Linked DNA regions of Homo sapiens: region 1 is linked to region 2. Evidence: fine-mapped expression QTL. Tissue or cell type: hippocampus. Region 2 holds a variant in brackets; the other region holds the start of a gene. All regions are shown on one strand. Distances are between the middles of the regions.

Region 1 (8,076 bases), 69 kb after region 2:
CCAGAATCCAGTTCTTGGGAGCTGTGCCATCGGCTTCCCTCGAAATGAACAAAAGACCGTCCTAGCCTTTAAGAAGTAGCAGGTGATTCCCACACCAATGGGGCACTTCAGAACATGCAGGACCACTCAGGTGGGTGCTGCAGGAGCCCAGTGGACCCACAGCTGGGCAGCCTGGATGGCTCCCATGTGGATTTCCTGCATGAGGGCAACACGCAGCTGCTCCAGGGAGATTTCCAAGTGGGAGGAGGCATGAGCAAAGGCCAAGAGCTGAGAACAGAAGGTCATAAACAGGAGACAACAAACAGCTCTGAGAGGCTGAGCAGAGATTGGGCCGAGATACGTGGGGCGTGACAGGGGCAGAGGACAGATGGGGAGGTTGGCAGGGCTGCTGGCCTGGAGGTAGAAGCAAGAATCAGGTGGATGACAGGGTTGGCCACCATGGAGCACCTCCAGGCTGACAGAGTTGAGACAAGAACCCATACCTCCTAACTGGCGCCACTCCACCCAGGAGGACTCAGCCAGCCCTTGAGCACACAGGGACACACTGCTGAACCTTATATTGACTTCCAATATGTATCTTTGCTGAGAGAATGAATGAAGGAATGATTGTCAGGCAAGTGACCATGTCTGAGAGGCCCTGTTGGGTTAGGGGTGTGGGCACAAAATCCTTAGTGCCAGGGAGAAGACAGGTTTTTTTTTACTGCAGAACCAAATGACCAAAGCTGCTTCTTTTTTTTCCCTTCCTCTCCCACAGGTCCGAAGGTAGGAAAGTTCCCCCAATGGTCTCCCCTTTTTCCTCCCACTGTCATGTCCTCCAGACCCCTAGCCTCCTTCCTAGACCCTCAGGGAGCAGCCACCACTTCCCCCAAATGAAAAGAAGGGAGCAGGCTCAGGCAGCAGCCCCGTGGAGTGGGGGTGGGGTGGGCAGCGCTGCACTCCTCCACCCCCTGCTGGCTGCAGCCTTCTTGGCGTTCTCTCCTCTGTTTTCCCATCTGTCTCTCTCCTTTCCTCACGTCCCCTCCCTGCCCTAGCAGCCCATCCTCTCTCCTGCTGCTTCCCCGCCTGTGCTATGCTTTTCTGCTTTCCTGGCTACCCCCACAGCCTTGCTGGATAGCTGGCTTGCTCCCAAACTCCAACCACACTATGGGGCCCCTAGGACCTACTCCTGCCAGAGAAAGGAGACTGCGTCTCCTCCACCTCTTCTCACCCACTGGCTACCACCAGCAGACTCAGTTCCTAGGCCTGGTCTGTGTGCCAACCCCCAAACAAAAGAGCCATAGGCAGAGAGGCAGGTGGGGTGGGAAGTGGCTGTTTCCAGGCATCACTGAGCCTGGATGGGGCAGGGGCTGCTCTACCATGGTCACAGGAAAGCGCCCAGCCCTGGAGCCTGCCTCTTCCCCACTGGTACCAAGCCCTAATCAAGCCCTAGGAGGCAGAAGGAGACTGGGGAGTTATCCAGCCCAGACAGTGGGAGCATAGCCCCGCCCTGCTCCACAGGGCCCCAGACCCCGAGTCCCCTACCACAGAAGCAAGGTGGTATCTCTTGCCTGCCCCCTGGGCTTGTGGCAAAAAGTTAAAAAAACAAAAAAAAAACAAAAAACTCCCCTGGCCTTGGGACTTCAGGAATGATTCCAGCCAAGATGGAAGGTTAAACCACACTTTTTCCAGACCTCTTCTGACTGAGGCAGAAAAGCTTTGATTTTACTTTCTATTCTTCCTGATTTCTTGGGTCTGGCATCCGCTCAGGAACAGGTATGAGCTCGCACATACTCATGTACACAGAACCATGCACTCCATGCACGTATCTGTGTACATACCAAGCTTGAATATGAACCCACCCATGCACACGTACACAAACATAGCTATTTTATATAAATATGGCACACACCGTCTACACACATACACACTACCTATAAAAAGAATACATACATCCTCACCTTGCCACCTCCTACCCTCCGTGTCTTCTCATCCTCCAACTGTCTTCCTTCTTCCCCTCCTCAGCTCTTTCATCTCCCCTGACCCAGCCTCCTGTCTCCCCCTGCCCCTGGCCTTCAAAGAGCTCTTCTGTAGCCTCCTCTAGCCTCACCCTTGCTCCTAAGTACAATGAGCCTGCAGTTCCTAGCATGGCAAAGCCTCTAATCACTCTGCAAGGGTTCCTGGGTGAGAGAAAGGAGAAGATGAAATAATTCTGCTTCTTAGTTGCAAATAAAATAAATCGAGGTACAGGGAGCGGGAGTCATATCTTGGCTCAAAGAATAGAAACCAATAAATCTAGGTTGCTTGCCTTTTATCTGCTCAGTGTTCTGGCCTCACCAAGGCAAAAGGCACGGGACATGCTACCCATGCCCCCAGCCCTCCACCGCAACTCCTTACTTGCCTAGAAATCCTGAGTCCCCCAGGGAAGTGGAGTGAGGGAGAGCTGATCTCAGGTAAGCTTAGCCCTGACCTCTGACTCTGACATTGTTCATTTGACTTTCCACAGGGGCACTGCCACTGTGGGGGGCATGGCCATCCTCCAGGTCACTGCGGGCCACCCCCTGGCCATGGCCCAGGGCCCTGCGGGCCACCCCCCCACCATGGTCCAGGGCCCTGCGGGCCACCCCCTGGCCATGGCCCAGGGCCCTGCGGGCCACCCCCCCACCATGGTCCAGGGCCCTGCGGGCCTCCCCCTGGCCATGGCCCAGGTCACCCACCCCCTGGTCCACATCACTGAGGAAGTAGAAGAAAACAGGACACAAGATGGCAAGCCTGAGAGAATTGCCCAGCTGACCTGGAATGAGGCCTAAACCACAATCTTCTCTTCCTAATAAACAGCCTCCTAGAGGCCACATTCTATTCTTTAAAGAGCCTGTCTTCCTTCATATCCAACCTGGCTGTCAGAGGACCCAGTTGTCTCCAAGCTCCCTAGTTGTGAAGATGGGGCAACCATCCTGGCATTCTCAGAAGCTTAATGCCATGGTGCTCACTATAAATGGCTGTGTAAGGTCACCTCTCCTTTCCTTTTCACTCCTGTGCCCTCCCATCGAGGAACTTCAAGTGTGGCCTCATTACCTCTATGCCATCCTGTACATCCAGATCTGGTGGGCCTTCCAAGGTTGCAGCTTGCATGCCTCACTCTACAGACCAGAAGCCTCCCTCCAATCCAGATGGTTTCTCACCATTCCCTTAAAATACACTGAACTTTCCAGCCCCCTTACCTTTGTTTGCACAGGTAAGGAAGAATGCCCCCACCCCAGGTCAGGAAGGCCTTCCCTCTCTCCTACCTCCACATTTCAAAGCCCACCCTTTCTTCCAAGCCAGCTGAAGCCCCACCATCTCCAAGAAGCCTTCTCTAAGGCCTATTAGGAAGAAAGAGGTCCTTCCTTTTTGCATACTGTCCCCTTCTCAACCACCTCATGGGCCTCACCATATCTTGCCTATTGGCAGCAATTTATGGGCTGGCCCTTTATCTCTCCAACCAAACTATAAGCTATTCAGGGCAGACCCAACACTTCTACACCTCTAGATTCTTCCACCCCATTTCTTATGACCTGTGTCTTACACGGACTGGCATTGGCACACATTTTAGGGATACCTATAGTCCAAGTGTTCCTGACTCTCTCCTCAGCCCCATGTCTTCAACCAAGGCCTCTCCCTGCACAAGTAACCAGGCCCTGAACAGCCTGCTTGCTGTAAAACCCTTTCTGCCTAGTCAAATCCCACATCCAGGATCCTCTCCACTCCCAGCCCCCCAGGCTTCTCACACTGCCAATATCTATTCTAGTTCTAGACCCCTTAGCCAGGCCTGTCCACAGTCCATCATACCCAAATGTGCTCTACTCACAGCTACTCCCTGGTGGGGGAGGTGGCACTGGAGTCAGTGGCTATTGGGCACCTCCCAGTGCCCTGGAGTCAGTGGCTATTGGGCACCTCCCAGGCTGAGGTGGGGTGGGGGGGCAGCGGTGACTATAAAAAAGGATCTGGGATCACTCAATATACCCTTATAACAAACCTGCACATGTGCCCCTGAATCAAAAATTAACCTTAGCTTACTGTGATTTGTTTGCTTTATAAACCTTTTAAATTTTAAAAAAGAAAGAGAAGGAGCTGGGGATGATCTGAGCGCCTCTCTTCTTCCCCCACCTCCTTCACCAGACTGCGCACTTGAGTAACGGAGTCAGGGCTCCGCATCTAAGGGGTGCACACCCAGGTCCAAGTCGAAGTCCAGAAGGATGGGAAGAAAGACCCAACCTGATGCCTCGCCCCACTGGGGAGGGGAGGAGGGCGCTGAGCGAGCCGGGAACCTCGCAGGCCTGAAGCCGCCCGCCTCGACCCGGGGCGTCCAGCGTGGTGAAGTGCGGGCGTGGAGCTCGCCCTCTATCCGGCTGGAAGGGTCTGCGTTTTGATTTGTGAGGATCTCTGCATGTGTCGCGCTCTCTGGTTCCTTACGGGAAGGCCGAGGCCGCTAGGAAGGGTTGCACGGCCGGACTCCTAACAGCGGCTCTCTGGCCTGGCGGGAGCAGAGGGGCGCTCACATCCGCAGCCCCGGGATCTTAGAGACAGAGCGCTCCGCTCCGGCAGCGGCGCCGCGCCCATTGGCTGGGCTCCTCCTCGCCCCGCCCAGCGACCGGCCCGCTCAGAGCCTACGCATGCGCACGAGCACCCCGCCGCCGCTGCCGCCGCCACCGCCGCCGCCGCCGCCGCCGCCGCGGCTTCAGCACCAGCGCCCGGACAGCGGTGCCGCCCACGGGCATGGACGGTGACAGCAGCAGCAGCAGCGGCGGCAGCGGTCCGGCTCCCGGCCCGGGTCCGGAAGGGGAGCAACGGCCCGAGGGGGAGCCCTTGGCCCCAGACGGCGGCTCCCCGGACAGGTAGGGCGGACAGCTCCGCAGATCCGTATCACAGACCCTCCCAGACCCTCCCCGCCCCAGGTATCCCCAGTAGCCGCCATATGTTGCCCCATTCATTCCCCAGACCCTCCCGGAGCCCCTTCCCGGGGTCGCCAAGCTCCAGGCCCCCCTCGCCACGCCCTCATCCTGCCGGGTCAATTTCCTCGCTCCCTGACACCCCCTAGTGTCAGCCCCCATCGCCCTCCCCGCTTAGGGAACCTGCCCCACCCACGGCTCCTACCCCTCCTCTCAGGCCAGGACTCCCTGGCTCCTCCGGCCCCTCCTTCTAGGCCCTGCCCCTGCGTCTTCTCCGGAAGCCCCAAGCCCGCAGTAACCTCAGTCCGGGTTTCAGCGTGCCAGTGTGCATGAAGGTGTGCGTGAATCGCGGATGGGAGGCTCGCCAAGGCGGGTGTCCTGGGGAAGGCAGACATTCGGCAGGCACGTCAGGGACTGTCTTTGTCACCATCAGTCGCTTGCCTGCCCTGCATGACCCCCAGCTGTGCACGTGTGGGTTCCAGTCCCTGCATGTGGCAGCCACACTGGCTGGAGCCGCTAAGATGGGAAGGATTTGGTGCTCAGGCTGCTGGCCTGTACCACCCCTGGAGGAGCCCCATACTGGTGGGACAGGAGGGACACCTTCCTGCTGAGGGCCCAGATCTCAGCACCTCTCTTCTCCCTTCCTCCACCATATGTGTGAGGGAACAGCCCAGCTAGGTAGCAATATGGCGCAATTTCTGTGCCCTGCCTGGCTCTGCCGCCCCCAGAATCCCTCCTCTGACATGACACTGCCTCTTTCCTGCCTGGACTGAAATAAAAGGCATTCCTTGATAGCAATAGCAGAAGTGGACACATCGTCTCCAGAATACCCCAGTTAAAATGTACATTCTGTACCCCAGAGGGGGAGAAAGCCCCACAAGTAGAGAGAAATGCTTTCTTCCCTTTATTGTTAACACATTAGCCTGGATAGATTTAGCCACTCTTCAGTCTGAAAGTCACAAAGCCTTCAAGAAGGTGAGACACAGGATGGGTGTATTCACCAGTCCAGGGACCTGCCTGGGACTATGGCCTGATCAAAGATGGGGCAGTGACAGGACAGAGCGAGGACCTGGGGCCAGAAGCATCCCTAGAAGGGGCAGGAGAGTCATTTGCTGTCTCAGATATCTTGCCAAGGATCAGCCATGTCCAGTCTCATTTCCCCTGGGCACAGGATCCACTTGCTCTCTTCCAGAAACTCCCTGGGGCCTCTGGCCCCTCTCTGGACTTCTCCAGAGACCATAGACACTAATTGGGCATAGGGACTTGCTTATGTGATTCAAGAAACACAAAAATGCTCCTGCTGACCTGAGTAGCACTCTGGGGATAGATACACAGTGAATAACTCACACACACAACATGCGCATGTGCACACACACTGGCTAGAGAGGAATTTGAAATAGTTCACACTTTGTGTTTTTAAAATTACCTTTTTATTTTCCTAGTGATATGAGCTGCTTCCCCATCTGTCCTGGCCACTCTGTGGGATCACACTGATGTTCACCTGGCTGTGTGTCTGTGGGCTTGGGGGTATAGTTAATGCGATATACATTTGCCCCTTATGGGGCTTCCAGGTTTGGTCTCTGTGTCTAGGAGCCTGTCAGCCAGGCCCTGATTGCTGGGATGCTGGCCTCTTAAATGAGGCCTGCATCCCCACTTTCCATCCCCCTGCCTGCCCTACTCACTTGGCGTACAGGCCTGCAGGCCCGGGCAGGCAACCCTGGAAGTTACTCATCCCAGTGAGGGCCATGGAACTGAGGGAGTGAGAATAAAAAACCCCTGTGTAGCCCTGGGGTGCTTAACTCCTATTTTACTGAGCCTCCTGAGATCAGAGGGCAGCAGGAGGTGACAAGAGAAAGCTTTTATTCTGAGAAGAGTGGAGGTCGGTTTTTCTCATGGGAGTTTTGAAGAAAAGGCCTGGCTCTACAGCAGTCAGAATATGGAAGGTTTCAAATTCTGCCACATTGATAATGGTGGGCACAGTCAGGAAGGGTGAGATTGGGGGCAGCTGATCCTAGGTCCCTGAAGAGGAATAGTAGGAGTTAAAGGGAAGGAGCTGGGGCCAGGGAGACTCCAGCAGAAGCAAACCAGTGGTGGAGGCTAAGATCCCCCTTGAACAAGAGCCAGCTAAGGAAAAGGGTGGACTTGGGAGGTTTTAGAAAACTGGGTAACCAAGAGTGCACCCACTCTTCTCCCGTATCCTCTGGAATGCTGGCTTCCCCTAATGCAAAAGAAACCAACACTCCAAGTGGGGCCCTGGCTCCTAAGACAAGCCCAGTGATCAGTTATCTAAGGCCATGGGCAGCTGGAACAGGCCCCCCACCTCCACCCAGGCTGCCCCACTCTCCTGACCTCTAGAAGGCAAGCCCTGCTCTGAAGAGGGAGACCAAGGCTGATGGGTCATCTTCAGGCCTCTAGGAGCAAGGACAATGCTAAAGCACAGGACAGTGCTCAAGAAAAACCCGCAGAATTTAACATCTTAAAGAGGTCTATGTCCACACTTACACACACAACCTAGGCCATTTATCCACCTTCTCACTGGCCCACAGGGATTGGCCTACAGAGTATTTTATCTGCCAGGACACTGGCTGCTTACGTTATTAACTTTATGGAGTCATCTGAGGTCTTGCTTTAGAACAACTTTGGTCAAATTCCTATTTTCCTAAATGTTGAGTTTGTAAAAAATAAGTATCAGTGATTAAAATCATGAGATCAAATTTTAATGCAGCTTTTGGATAACAAGAAGGAAAGTATTTATATAGGTAGTGAGATTCTCAAGGTGTGAGAAGTTCTAAAATGGAGATATATTATCTGAGGTGCCAAAAGAGGACAAATTGTAAATACAAACACACTTCTAAAAGTATATGCTCCCTGCTGCACTGACCGTGGGAAGGGGCAGGAAAGCAAACGTGTCTTCCACGTGACAGACCCTGTGCCAGGAACCTCACATATGTTACATCAGTTAATTCCCACACCAAACCCAAGAGGTGGGCATTATCTCATATCTTCAACAGACAAGGATGCCAATGCTCCAAGAATTGTGTGTCTTTCCCAAGGCCCCAGAGCCAAAGGGTGTTTGAGTCAGAAGCCCACCTCCACTGCTCCCCCATTTCACCCTCAGCATGAAGGTCATTCTCTCCTGTACTGCCGGGCCAGCCTGCCATCCTTCTGGGAA
Region 2 (8,076 bases):
GTAAAGTAAGGAGTAAAGCAGTTATCAGCTGCAGAATTTACTGAGACTTTTCATGAGCCGCACATTTTGTTGCCGGCAGCGGGTAAGAGAGAGACAGAATCTCGGTTCTGGGTGCGAGACGTTCCACCTCTTAAGAAGACAACACTGGGACTTAAAAAATGGACGTTGTCACCTGAGGGCTGAATTCTTCTGCTAAATACGTACCAACACAGTCCTTGGATGAAAAGATGGAGTTGTGGGCAGGAGAGGGCTCTCGGGCCTTTTAAAGATAGGCCTTCAAGGATGTGCGGGATCTGGCTGCAAAAGAAAGAAGGAAGGAATCCCAGGCCGGGTGCAGTGGCTCACGCCTGTAATCCCAGCACTTTGGGAGGCCGAGGCGGGCGGATCACGAGATCAAGGGATCGAGACCATCCTGGCCAACATGGTGAAACCCCGTCTCTACTAAAAATACAAAAATTAGCTGGGCGCGGTGGCACGCGCCTGTAGTCCCTGCTACTTGGGAGGCTGACGCAGGAGAATTGCTTGAACCTGGGAGGCAGAGGTTGCAGTGAGCCGAGATCACGCCACTGCACTCCAGCCTGGAGACAGAGTGAGACTCCGTCAAAAAAAAAAAAAAAAAAAAAAAAAAAAGGAAGTAATTCCAGACGGGTTCTGGAGGCAAAGGCTTGGAAGCAGGATAAACCTTCAGGGGACACTATTGAGGGCTGCTTTAAGGGGTCCCTTCCTATCAGAGACAGGAAATAAGGGAAGAATGATGGTGTTCTCAGTCTGAGCAGATGCTTTGGAGTAGGAGATGCCTGGGGAAAGGTACTGGGCATAGATAGGCGTGGCAAAGTGGGCTCATGGCCCTGCACCCTGAACCCCTTGCCTCTCTCCAGCTCCCAGGCTCCGGGGATGTCCACCTTGAATTTGGCACCCAGGCCATGGAGCAGAGGCTCCCACTCCCCTCTGTCACGTGAGGAGCGTGTGATGTGTACCTGCATCCACTACGAAGCCCCCCTTTTCTCTTTTTGCATTTGTTAAGCCTTTGGTCAGGGATCTGCCAATTTTCTTTCCTGGTGTCATGAAAAGGCCACAGATCTGACATCAGCGTTAAGTCCCAGCTTGAAGGCATTTACTAGCAGTGTGGCTCCAAGCCTGCATATTCTCAGCTGCAAAATGAGACTGATAAATACCAGCCCTGCCTGCTTTACACAAGAACAAGTTAGAAAGTGTCAGGGAAAGAGCTGCATAGTTATTTCATTTTTTTTATTTTGTTTTGTTTTGTTTTCTAGAGCTGCATAGTTATTTAGAGTGCAGCCCTCAAAGCTGCTCCCGCCCCAGAGCTAGGGCCCCCTTCTGGGGTGGCCCCCAGGAATGGATAGAGACTCTCCACCCCCAGTAACTGGGCAGGAATGCTCTCCTTTACTCAGCAGAAGAAAGGCTTTTCTTCCCTTTATGACTCAACTTCTCTTTTCAGCACTGTGAGGGAAATTGCTTTCTTCCCTTCTATTTCCAAGGTCAGAGGAGGGTGTACCCCTGGAACCTGTGTGTGGCCCACCAGCCTGACAAGCCATGACTCACACCCCCCCAGGTGGAGGAGAGAAGCAGCAGAAACCCAGAATGGGCACTTTCTTGGTCCTGAAGAGCCCCTCCTCCCTGAGACAACTGAGCTTCATTTCTGTTCCTGTTCCTCCGTGGTGGATTGAGACAGTTCCAGGGAAGAAGAGTTGGGGCAGAAAGTGCTGTGCTGGGTACCCTTTGGAAGGAGCAGTTGGTTCCCATGGCAGGAAGGGGGTGGTGGTGCCAGGTCTCGAGCCCTGGAGCCTTTGCTCTGACTTCTCTATGGGCTCAGTATGTTCTGAACAGAAAAGAAACAGCAAAGCTGAAAAAAAGCTGAGACTTTGCTGCAGAGCACAGAGGCACCAACAGCCGGAATTAGAAGCTGTCGCTTAGGGAGCTGAAGGCTGACAGGAGATGGAGCCCAGGCAGGCAGGGGGCAGGCAGGCACGTCATACTCACCTCCCCTCCTCTCCCCTCCTGTCCCACCTGCTGGGCCTGTCCTCCCAGCAGGCCCCAGGCTGGCAGAAGGGCTCCCTCCCCAAGATGCCTCAGTGTGGTCTGCCACTCTGTCTGCAACTGCCTCCCTCTCAGGCCCCTTCTTTCCTCAAGTGTCACCAGCCCCCTCACGCTGTCACGTTGCACCAGCTTGGCAGGGTTGGGCCTGGTGGCATGTGTCTGGGAGATCCAGAGGGCTGCTCAGGGGATGCAGGGGGCGGGGTGAGTCAGCAGGGGACTCGAGTCTGAGTCAGCAATGGAATTGGGAAAGGGGTAGGGACCCTTCTCTTTGTGCAAAAGGTGAAACTGAGGCATGATGCGTGAAGGGAGCCTTGCCCCAGTCCCATAGATACACAGCAGTGATGGAACCCAGGTGTCCTTCACCTGCCCCAGTACCCCAAGGGAAGGCGTCAACTCTTCTTCTATACATCCCCTGCAGCCAGAGACTAATTCATCTCCAGGACCCAGAGATGGCATTTGCCTAAGGGACACCTTGCCTTTTTGGGAGGAAAGCAGGGAGGCAGGTATCTAGGCCTGGCCACATGGGAAGGCCCCAGTCGGCTATGCAGAGGCCTCTCCGGGGGCAGGATTGCATCGCCTTCCCCATTCCTGGGCTACCCAGCTCCAGACTGGGAGCCCAGAGACTCTGCGTGGCCTGGCCCAGAGGTGAGGGGAAGGCAGCTTTTCCTTCTCCTGTACAGTCATCAGCAAAATCTGGGGGCTGCCCAGTGGGCTCCATTGGGCTCTGGCTCTGGCTTACGTGCACATGCCTGGGTCAGTGAGTTCCTCTAGGCCCGAATCCTCACCTTTACAGCCCAGTGCCTGGCAGAAGGGTTGAACATAGGGCACCACCCTGGGGTATAGGTGGTCTGCCCCAGCGTATCCAGTCTGTAATGATGTAGGGAGCAGGCTGATCAATGCTAGGCCTTAGCCCAGTAAATGATCAGCCCCCTCACCTCACCCTACAGCCAGGGCCTGGTAGAATCCCAGAGGTCAGACTCCCAGAGGGATGGGATGGCAGGGTGGGGGCAGGAGGACCTGTTTACTTTCCAAAGGAACAGGTGCTCACAGCTAACGGCATGTGCTGTAACTCTAATAAGAAAACAACCTCTTCCCAGAATCAATCCCCCTCTGCCTCCTAAGCCAGTGCCTGTCCCTATTTGGGATTTGGGATCATGTCATCGGTGCAGTGAGTGGCTGCCCACAAGCCCCTCCACAGCAAGTTTTGAGGTCAACCATAGCTGCCATAGGGTCCTGAGCATCCAACCACTCTGTCTTCCTAAAGGGGCCTAGATTGCCTAAAAGTTTGGAACTCCCCCTAAAATAGGGGACATCTTTGCACTCAGCTCTTCTGCTCCAACCCCGAGAGTGGAGACAATGAAGGGCCACATCTGTGTGGGGGCGAAGAGGGGGTGACATAATTTTCCAGTGATTGTGGCATCAGGGCCAGCAGAAGGGGAAATGAATCCTCTTCAAGTCCAGAGGCAGGGCCATTTCACTGGACTCTGGAAAGGACCTCACCCTGGGTTCAGCTCCCAAGAGATTTTTTTTTCCCCAGCCCGTTTCATTTCAGGGGCACTCCACTACCCTGCCCCCATTTTCTACCTGTAGAATAGAGACCAGGCTTAAGCAGGAAACACTGGGACGAGGTTCTTTAATAGGAGTAGGAAAGAGAAAAATAAATAAACCTCATAAATTCAGGAGAGCAAATGATGCTGACCTTGTCAGGCAGGCAGCCTGAGAGGGGTACATGGTAGGAACTGCCTGCCCCCAGGCCTAGGAAGAGGGGTGAGCCAGGGTCAGGGTGGAACAGCACCCAAGAGCCCACTGCCCCTTGTGACTCAGCCAAGCAGGGCCAAGGCAGCTTTTCCATTTCAGCCTCCCGTTCCGGACAGGCAGAGGGGAGGGGAGGGCCCTCAGCCAGGGAGTGGCCGTCCCCAGGGAGCTGTGAGGTAGTGCCAGGATCTGCCTCAAGGAGTGGACAAGGCCAACTCAGGGCAGGC[C/G]TGATGGGGCCTGGAAGCCTGGGGCAGGAGGGTTCGGGGCTAGAGTGGAGGTGAGTGGGTCCAACCCTCCAGGTGAGGAAACTGAGCCCAGAGCTGGTTGCTCAATAGGAAAGGCAGAGTGGGGCCAGGATCCCACTTTCTGCCTTCCAGTCCATAGTCTTTTGCCCTCAACAAATATATGACACTTATCTAGAGATGGAGGGGGAGGTAGGAAGTCAGCTTGAGAAGACTTCTAGGCCCCAGAGAGGCCCTGCCGTGAGGGTGCCTGGGTCCTGTCTCAGACTCTGGCCTGGCCGTTGAGGAGGGGGCTGCAGCGTCCAAGGCAGCCACAGGTTCCCACAGCCTCAGAAGGCTGGGGCTCCTTTTTCCTGGGGGAATAGAACCACATCCCAGAGAAGGGGCTGAACCTCCTTGCTAAATGTCCCAGTGGGATGGGGGCATCAGAGGCGGCTCTCCTGGGCATCTGCCTTTGCTATGAGTGGGTCCTGCTCACACAGCTCTGGGGGGCACTCGCAGGCCCTCTCAGGCTTGTCCTTGGCCTCGGAGGGAAAGCAGGTCCTGAGGCAGGCCCTCACCGACTCCTTCACCTCTGCCTCCAGACCCTTCATCCTGGCCTCGTACTCTGCCAGCGCCTCCTTCTGGAACTGTGGAGACAGCAAGGACCCCTGCCTGGCTCAGGAGGGGCCTGCTGGCCACCCTCGCTCCCTGGACAGTGGGAACAGGAGATGCCCAATATCCATGTTCGGAGCTCCCAGGAGACTGGGGTGAGAGGCAGGGTGGGGGAGTGGTAGAGCCCATCAGGAGCCTCTCAGGAAAGGGGATCCTAACCAGGCGGAGATCTGCAGAGCTGCCTCATTTGAAAGGGCCTCGGGACCCCACAGTGAAGGATGATGGCCCCCTTCCCCTACCCTCTCACTGGCAGCTCCCTGGGGCAAGGCCCCTTTACAACCCGGAACCCATTCAGTTCTGCTGGGGGTCCCAGTAGTGAACCTGTTACCTGCTTTTCCATCTCCCGTATCTGTTCCAGGCAAGCCGCCTGCTTCTCCTCCAGCTTCTCCTGGTGCCTCTCCAAGTTCTCCGTCATCTGGGTGGGAGTGGATGGCAGAGAATCAGGACAACACAGACAGGCAAGCTGGGTCAGAATCCAGCTGTAATCCCAGCTAACTAGTTGTAAGACTTTGGGCAAATTCCTTAACATTAGGTAGTTTTTAAAATTTGTAAGATAAGGATAGCAGCACCTGTCTCACTGGACTGTAAAAGATTATACAAGACAGCTCATGTGAGGCACCTGGCAGAGTGCCTGGCACAGGTCAGGACCCAGTAGGTGGCAGCTGTGTTCTGTGGTTAATGATCCCTAGGGGAGCTTCAGGTCCATTATTCCTTGGCACCTCAGGAAGCTTCCTCACTCCCTCTTCATCCCCTGACCCTCGCCAGTCCCAGCCTCCCCTGGCCCTGATATGGGCCAGTTAGCCCATATCATTTCCACACATGAGAACTGGCCAGAGACAGATCCCTTCAGGCTGGTACCCCAACCTCCATACACAGGCCAGAACCCCAGGATGTCCCCTGCCACCCCAGCTGCATGGACAGCGCTAGGCAGTGCATCTCCTAAGGGCAAAGTCAGGGCCTGGGGCCACCCCTTCCTACTTGTGAAGAGAGAGAGAGAGAGAGAGAGAGAGAGAGAGAGAGAGAGAGTGTGTGTGTGTGTGTGTGTGTGTGTGTGTTTAGGAAGGACACAGCCCTTACACACCTGCTTGATCACCTGCACTACTTCCTGGATGTGGGAGTTGTTAATCTCTCTCTTCAACCTGTTGGTGTAATTGGAGTTTTAGAAAAGGGAGAAAACCCCTAGGGAGAGTAGGGTAACATGAAGTCTACGCAGGATGTAGGCAAATGAGAAATCCAACATAGGGCAGGAACCAGCTGGGGGCAGGTGTGGGGACCCAAGGAGTATGTAGGGGCCACTGGGAGTCCTGGGGCCCTCTGAGGGAACCATTTCCCCATCAAAACACACTGTCCTTCCGTGGGAAACAGTGCCACCACAGTGGACAGGCTACAATCCCAAGGCCTCAGCTCCCTCCCTGCAGGCTTGGCTGCCTCCAGAGCTCTGCCCATGTAGTGTTGGCCTCCGTGTTTTGTCTGAGGAGGACACTCTGATCAAAGGTGACAGGGGGGATCCGCTTTTTGGAGAGCCAGGGGACAGATGCATCTTTGGGAAGTGAGTCAGGATCCATTTGTAGAGAGGCCCCTTTCCACCTGAAGTGGGGTCTGCCCAGCCCTGGGCCTCCCCTCCAGGGCTCACCTCTCCTGGGCCATCTTGTCTGTGGTGACTTTGGTCATGCCCTGGATCCGCTCCAGTCTCTTTGTCTCCAGCTTTTTCTTCATCTCTTTGGTGTCGCTGCAGAGAGACAGGCATGAAGGAGCTGTTTTGTGCGGCTGAGCCCTTGCTGGGAGGCGAAGCAGGTGTGGGAGGGAGGCAGTCGTACTTCTCCGACGTCTCCTTCAGGGCCTTCAGCTCTGCCGCCTGTTTCTCTCTGGCCAGCTCCATCATTTTGGAGATTTGCTGCAGGGAGAGGAAGTAAGCTTGGCGAGAAGCCCTTTGTTGTTCAGAGGGAGTACGGGGGGCGGGGGTCGGTGGAGGGGAGTCGGTGAGGGGGTTGGGTCGGTGAGAGGGGCGAATGGGGTCCATGGGGGGTGGGGTCGGTGGGGCTGGTGGGGTTGTCGCCCTGCCCCTCCCGGCCACCTCGGCCACGTGCTGCTCCTTGCGCTTCAGAACGCACTCGTACTGCTCCTCGCCCTGCCGCAGCAGCTCCAGCTCCAGCCTGTCTTTCAGCTCCCGCACGCGCCCGTCCACGCCCTCAGGGCCCTCGCCCGGCGCGGCTCCGGCGCTCTCCTCGCGGGGCAGGCTCCTGGGGAGGCCACGTGGGGACAGGCCCTGAGATCCTGCGCCACCCGCGCTGCAGAGGGCAGGGCACCGCCACGAGCCTTACCTCTTCTTGCGAGAGCCCTTGCCGGGACCGAGCTTGCAGGCCCCGACGCCCCCCACGCCCGGTGGCCCGAGCTCCGCCAGCTGCGCCGCGCCCCGCTGCAGCAGCTCCTCCCAGCGCCGCGCTCCGCGCCGCTCCAACTCTCGCAGCTCCTTCTCGTGCCGCCGCTGCAGCTTCACCACGCCCTTTAGCTCCCGGAGCTCCTCCAGGCTGGCGGTCCGCGGCTCTGCGGAGGCCCGGGTGAGGCGCAACACCGGCCAGGCCGTCCTGCCCGTCCAACCCCCAAGGAGCCCCGGACCCGCCCCAGGCTCATCCCCGAGATCACCGGGCTCAGCAGGCCTTACCCGCAGCTTCTTTCATAGCCTCTTCCCTGGCCCCGGCCCTGGCTGCTGCAAGAGCCACGGGCTGGGCTGTCAGGTGCTCTGGGGGGCCCCTTGGCTCCGTTCGCCTCCTCCACACCGCCCCCTGGGAGTCGCAGTATGTGCCCCCTGCCCCGCACTTTCCCTAGGTGAAATTTTTTAAAGGGAAGTGCCTGTGGGTGCAGAGGTGGAGGTGCCCCCAGTAGGTGTGCGGACCGAAGCTCATACCTGGTGACCCATTGCTCGTTGGGGCCAACGCCCCATTGACCTGGCTGGCAACTGGACTCGCCAGTGGGAAGGGCTTCTGTGTAGGGAGAGCAGGTCAGGAAGGTGGCTTGACAGCCCTCTCTCCCCGAGCCTGGGACTCGGCCCTCTCCCCAGCCTCTCCCATAAATAGGGCTAATCTCTGGTGAGCCCCTGGCAGCAGTGCAGGCAACACAGACCTCAGGCAGACCTCCCATGGCCTCCTTGAGCTTCACAGACTTCGTGTCATGGGCACTGAAGAACTTAATGGGGTTGGCGAGGGCCACAGTGAGATCTGGGTGGGTGCACAGGACATTACAACATAGTGTATATGGAGATGTGGCTGGAAGTCTCCCCTGTCCTCACCCACTCCAGGATGCCCCATCTGGATCCCACCCCAACTCTGGAAGCTGGCTTGATGGGAAGGAAGGGGGAACAGACACCCCG

What was found. PIP is the estimated chance that this variant, and not a neighbour inherited with it, causes the effect.
Region 1: DISP2 starts here. The variant in region 2 is fine-mapped to the expression of DISP2 in hippocampus (GTEx, PIP 0.97).

Annotation. Positions count from the first base shown.
Region 1 is chr15:40,353,591-40,361,666 of GRCh38, forward strand. DISP2 (dispatched RND transporter family member 2) reads left to right here and starts at 4,629. Exons shown (of 8, transcript NM_033510.3): 1 at 4,629-4,850. The coding sequence starts at 4,732. PHGR1 (proline, histidine and glycine rich 1) reads left to right here. Exons shown (of 4, transcript NM_001145643.2): 3 at 755-762; 4 at 2,483-2,844. The coding sequence ends at 2,713. It overlaps LOC124903472 (a long non-coding RNA gene), which reads right to left. Exons shown (of 4, transcript XR_007064597.1): 4 at 6,316-8,076. RefSeq lists an enhancer at 814-1,339 and a silencer at 4,550-4,809.
Region 2 is chr15:40,284,235-40,292,310 of GRCh38, forward strand. It overlaps PLCB2 (phospholipase C beta 2), which reads right to left. Exons shown (of 32, transcript NM_004573.3): 23 at 7,830-7,924; 24 at 7,615-7,690; 25 at 7,372-7,416; 26 at 7,031-7,253; 27 at 6,784-6,949; 28 at 6,527-6,603; 29 at 6,343-6,438; 30 at 5,791-5,848; 31 at 5,038-5,124; 32 at 3,675-4,684. The coding sequence ends at 4,481. Among named protein-coding and RNA genes, the nearest start is that of ANKRD63, 5.2 kb to the left of the region's middle. RefSeq lists enhancers at 7,073-7,618, 7,619-8,076. The variant C/G (reference allele first, on the strand shown) is at 4,041.